Linked DNA regions of Homo sapiens: region 2 is linked to region 1. The links come from fine-mapping of genetic effects on plasma protein levels. A gene starts in region 1. The other region holds a variant in brackets. All regions are shown on one strand. Distances are from middle to middle.

The links. PIP is the posterior inclusion probability: the model's chance that the variant is causal. Protein levels are from antibody-based Olink assays in UK Biobank. Linkage for the fine-mapping came from a reference panel and not from the study's own genotypes, which makes the PIPs less certain.
Region 2: its variant is fine-mapped to the plasma level of the VWC2 protein (UK Biobank, PIP 0.92).

The regions. Positions count from the first base shown.
Region 1 is chr7:49,772,413-49,775,319 of GRCh38, reverse strand. It overlaps VWC2 (von Willebrand factor C domain containing 2), which reads right to left and starts at 1,682. Exons shown (of 4, transcript NM_198570.5): 1 at 1,207-1,682.
Region 2 is chr7:49,747,013-49,749,919 of GRCh38, reverse strand. No RefSeq gene overlaps it. Among named protein-coding and RNA genes, the nearest start is that of VWC2, 25 kb to the left of the region's middle. The variant A/G (reference allele first, on the strand shown) is at 1,657.

The DNA.
Region 1 (2,907 bases):
AGCAGCACAACTGAGCCCCGCGGCCCGCGCGCGCCCCGGCCCGCCGCGGCCCCCACCCGGGCTCCGGCATAGCTCTAGATTAACGAGCTGGGCGACGGGGGCGGGGGCAGCATGCCCAGCGTCGGTGCACGGCCGGGGTTCTTAGACATCACAAACTGTGGAGCGATACATTGGAAGCGAAATCCAAGAACGACACCGGCCGGCGTGTTTCTGATGTAGTCGTGATTAGTGTTGGAGATGGCCAAGGGCGGCTTGCGGAGCCCAGGGAACGCAGCGAGCCAGGCCCGCGCCCCCCTGCAAAGCTCTGCCTTGAACCACGTAATTCAGGCACCCAGGGTGTCCCTCCCTAGGTCCTGGCCACATTTCCCGAAGGTTATTAAATGGAGAATTCAGCAGTGGAGTTAGAGACGGACGAATGTACAGGAAGATAAGAGGGAAACTCTTCCTCATTTGCTTTAGGGGGTTGTGCTGGGAAAATGCGGGGAGGTTAAACAAAGCTTCTCCTAGGACTCCACGATTCATTTCTAACAACTTCTTAAAAGACTCCCGTCTCGGGAGCAGACGCCCCCTCCCCGCTCTCTAAGCCCCGCTGCATGAAAGGATGCCCTCGGCCCCTTGCCAGAGGGCCGGGTCGGGGATTCCCGGGGCTTCAGCTCCTCTGCCGGCCCGCCCCTCCGAGCCTTGGGAGCCAGGTCGCCGGCCGCAGCGCTCAGTCTTGTAGTGTCCTGGCTGCGGAGCAGAAGCGCCCGGGCAGCACCAAGGTGTGCAGTGCGGGAGGCTGGGGCCCCAGGGCGCAGAGTGGGCGCGAGACCCTCCTACTCGCTGGATCCCGGCCAGCCTTTCTGGATTCCAAAGTTTCTGCCGCCCAAAGGGGCTGGGAGAGCCCGAGACGCCGCAGGACACCGGCAATCCAGCCTCTCTCCGCCTCACTCCCCGAACGCCCCCACTCTGCGCACTCCGGTGCGTCTGTCCCCTCCCCCTCAGCCCTCCTCCCTGAGGGCTCCGGACGTGCCCGGCCCTGCTGACCCCCTGCCCGGTCCCTGCCGACCTCAACACTGGGCGAAGCGCCCATATTCACAAACTTGGGCGGGGGAGGGGGTTCCTCCGGAGCAGCTGAGCGGCTGAACCCAGCTGGAGCGCGTCCGGCCGCGCGGGGACACCCAGCATGCACCCTCAGCCCTGAAGACCGGCGCCAAACCTACATACATGAGCGCAGGGCGCGGGCCGGACGCCGGGCTCGCAGCGGGCGCAGGGGTAGCAGCGGCGGGCGCGGGCCCGGGTTGCCAGCGCCCATCCTGGGCCGGCCGGCGACCCGCGTGGGGCGGACCACTAACAGCCCAGCCCCACCTGCGCGCTCCGCCTGGCGCGCACACCGGGCTAGGGCGTCTCTGGGGAGTCGCTCATCGCGCTGTCAGCTGCCGGTAGTCGCGGCCCCAACTCGCGTCAGTGCCCGCGTCGCCCTCAGTCGCTCATCCTCCGGCCTCGTCCCCGCTTCTCCGAGACCAAGCGCGCCCCGGGGGCCACCCTGGCGCCGCCTCGCTCCTCTCCGCGGAGGGGTTCGGGGAGCTCTCCAGACCCGGCAGCCGGAATGTCTGGGCAGCCGTGGCGCGTCGGAGGGAAAAGAGAAGCCCGGAGCGCGGCCGGCGCGCGAGTGGCACCGAGGCCAGCATGGGAGCTAGCGCGCCCGCCTCCCGCCTCCCCCTGCCGCAGCCGCCTCCGCCCGGCTCCCGTTCCGCTCCCTCCTCTGCTGCCCCCGCTCTGGAGGCCCCGCCTTGGCCCGCGCTGCCCCGGGGGAGGCCCTCGCGCTGCCCCCGGAGAGGCCCTACCGCCGCACCCGCTCCCTTTGCTGCGCCGGACCAACCTGTCACTCGTCCGCGCGGCCGCGTCCCCACCTCCGCAGCCGGCCGCAGACCCTGCCAGGGCTGCCATTCTCCAGTCGAGTCATTCACTTTGCGCTGGACCTTTCATCTTGGCTTTTCTCTTTTCTTTAATTTCTTCCTTCCTAATTGGCCCCCTCTGGCTTTCCTCTTTGTGGACAGCTTGTTTCAGCTACTGTGTTCAGATTGGGATTCGAAGGCCGTGTTAGTTTAGCAGACTGTTGAGACTTTCTCGTCTTTGCATTCAGAAACCCAGAGAAATAGACGTTTACGAGTAAGAAACGTAAAAATCTCAAGCGCGAACTTTCTGAATCTCTGCCAATCTCTCCCCGCTCCCATCTTCCTCTTTCTGCCTGCTCTCTCTTCTACTACAAATAGAAACCTGTTTCCTAACTTTGCTAGAATCCTCAACTGTTAAGCAGAGGCCCGGTTGTTTTTACTCTTTGATCTTGTGTAAACGAGAAAACGTCAATAGTACCTGTTCAAATTAATCCCCGAAATTGAATTTTCATGGAAATGGCCCATGGCAGTGGTTCCCACTCACGGCATTTTAGAATCCCTGAAAGTGCTCGGACGGTAAACAGATAAGCTTCCCTGCAAGGTCAGGCGCTCTGGCTGGTGGGAACTGGGGAGGCTGGTTTGGGACACAGTTATGTCTATCTTTTAATAGTATAGACAAACAAATCTTAGCTGAGGTGCTAGGGAGCCCTCCTTGAAAGCCTGAGAAGGCTGCCCCTCCACCCCCTCCAACACATACACAACCAACAGGGCTGGATGGAGGATTTCTTTCTCTCTCTCTCTCTCTTTTTTTTTTTTTTCAGACGGAGTCTCGCTCTGTGGCCTAGCCTGGAGCGCAGTGGCGCGATCTCCACTTACTGCAAGCTCGATTCCCGGGTTCATGCCTTTCTGCCGCCTCAGCCTCCTGAGTAGCTGGGACTACAGTCGTCCGCCATCACCCCCAGCTAATTTTGTTTTTGTATTTTTAGTGAGACGGGGTTTCACCATGTTGGACATGATGGTCTCGATCTCC
Region 2 (2,907 bases), 25 kb after region 1:
TTCCTCCTATGGGGGCTTTGTGCAGAGTGGAACAACCTTTGCTATTCAGGTCAGAAATCAAGAGATGTTTGTACCATTTTTATCCTCTATAATTTGTGTAACCAGGGGGGAAAACCACTATTTTGCAGCCACATATAAACACTTGGTTTTAATTAAAAACCGTATGCTGGGCTTTCTTAGTTCTTACCAAAATATAAGTAGAAGCTTTGGAAGCCTCGTTAAGACACAATTTTGGGAGGTCTGTGCTCCTGGTCATTGATTTTCCTGGAAAAGAATGTGTGCATGCAGAAACATCTTAGCATATCCTGTTATATATTATAAAATGCCATGCTATTTGTGATGCCCTTTTAAATTTTAAATTAGGAGCTAAATGCTCACCTGTTTCTTCTCATACTTTTAAATTCCTGTAATTATTCTTATTCAGCCTATTGATGTGGCATATTAAAGCAACAGTGCCTCCCTTGGTTTAAATGCCGATTGCACAGATGAGGACATTAACACAGGAGATTGCGGTGACTTATCCCCGGTCCCACAGGCATCATGATCAGACAGCTATTCGTTACTGAGTTGTCCGTGAAAGCCTTTCACCTTGCAGTGGCTTTTCCCACTTTCTCTTCCAACAACACTAGTAATAGGCCTTCCCGAATTTCCAGACTCAACACTCTTAAAGAATCACATTCCATCCAGTGCACTATAGTAATCAACATGTTTTACCCATTACAGTAATACTCCAGTTGACAGAATCAAAGCCACAACCCTCTCAGTGGGCCCAAGATGCAAAATTGCAGCCTGATGGGGTGATTCACCTGCTCCTCTGTCCCATAATCCTCCTGTCACCCGCTGGAGGCCACAGGTCCTTCTGGTGTCCTTCTTTGCTTATATGCCCTTGATGGAGGATGGTAGATGAAAGAGGGAGGTGGTGAAGAAGAGGGCATTTGGGGAACCTCTCTAATTTCAAGTTACTTTAAGACCTGGAATGCAAAAGTTGTTAGAATGAACATCTTGCCTTTTGACTGAACTAAGGGCAAAACTGGGCAGCCTTTCCTCCATAAGTATTCTGTTGTAGCGGTTTGTTTTTTAGAGTCCCTTTTCTTTTCTTTCTTTCTTTCTTTCTTTCTTTCTTTCTTTCTTTCTTTCTTTCTTTCTTTCTTTCTTTTTTTTTTTTTTTGAGACAGGGTCTTGCTCTGTCACCCAGGCTGGAGTGCAGTGGCACCATCTCAGCTCACTGCAAGCTCCACCTCCCAGGTGCATGCCATTCTCCTGCCTCAGCCTCCCAAGTAGCTGGGACTGCAGGTGTCCGCCACCATGCCCGGCTAATTTTTTCTATTTTTAGTAGAGACGGGGTTTCACCATGTTAGCTAGGATAGTCTCGATCTTCTGACCTCGTGATCCGCCTGCCTCAGCCTCCCAAAGTGCTGGGATTACAGGCGTGAGCCACCGCGCCTGGCCTAGAGTCCCTTTTCAGACTGGAGAAGTTCTCTTCAATTTTTAATTTGCTTTGCATTTTTATCATGAATATATGTTTAATTTAATCGGGTGTTCTATCTGTATCCATGAGATGATCCATTTTCTCTTCTTTAGTCTATTAATAAGATGAATTACATTGACTGACTTTCAGATTTCGAGCCAGCCAAACATACTTGATCATGACATATT[A/G]GCATTTTTACATATTGCTGGATTTTATTTGTAAGAATTTTTGAGGATTTATGCATCTATGTGCACAAATGCTATTGTTCTGTGGTTTTCTTATAGTATCCATTGTCTTTCATACTTTGAATGAGTTTGCATAGATTCGGTATGATAGTCATCCACCACATAAGGACATACTGGTCAATGATGGACTGTCGTATACACTATGGTGTCCCCATAAGATTATAATGGAGCTGACAAATTCCTATCGTCTAGTGGCATCATAGCCCTCATAATGTAGCATTACTCATGTGTTTGTAGTGATACTGATGTAAGCAAACCTACTGCACTGCCAGTTGTATAAAAGTATACCAAATACCATTAAGTAAATTACCTAATACTTGATAATCATAATAAATGACTATGTTAACTGGTTTATGCATTTACTATACAACACTTTTAATCATTATTTTACAGTTTACTCCTTCTACTTATAAAAAAACAGCCTAATCAGGTCCTTCAGGAGGCATCCAGAAGTAGGCATTGTTTTCATAGATGACAGCTCCCTGCCTGTCATTGCCCCTGAAGGGCTTCCAGTGAGACAAGATGTGGAGGTGGAAGATGTGATACTGATGCTCCTGACTCTGTGTAGGCCTAGACTAATGAGTGTGTTTGTTTCTGATAGAGTTTGTATATTTGCCCCCGCCTAAATCTCATGTAAATGTCATGTTGAATTGTCATCTTCAGTGCTGGAGGTGGGGCCTGGTGGGAGGTGCTTGGATCATGGAGGCGGGTTTCTTATGAATGGTTTAGTGCCATCCTCTTGGTGCTGTCCTGGTAATAGTGAGTGACTTCTGAGATCTGGCTGTTTACAAGTGCATGGTGCCTACTCCCACCTTACACTTGCTCCCATTCTCCTTATGTAATGTGCCTGCTTCAGCCATGAGTAAAAGCTTCCTGAGGCCTCCTTGGAGGTAGATGCCACTATGCTTCCTGTACAGCCTGCAGAACCATAAGCCAATTAAACCTCTTTTCTTATAAATTACCCAGCCTCAGATATTTCTTTATAACAATGCAAGAATGGCCTAACACAGTGTCTTAGTTAACAAAAAAGTTAGAAAAAATTAAAAAATAGAAAAAGCTTGCAGAATAAGGATATAAAGAAAGAAGAAGATATTTTTATATAGCTGTGCAATGTGTTTTGAGCTGTTATTATAAAAGAGGCACAAAGTTTAAAGTTAAAAAGTTTATAAAGTAAAAAAGTTAAGGTAAGCTAAA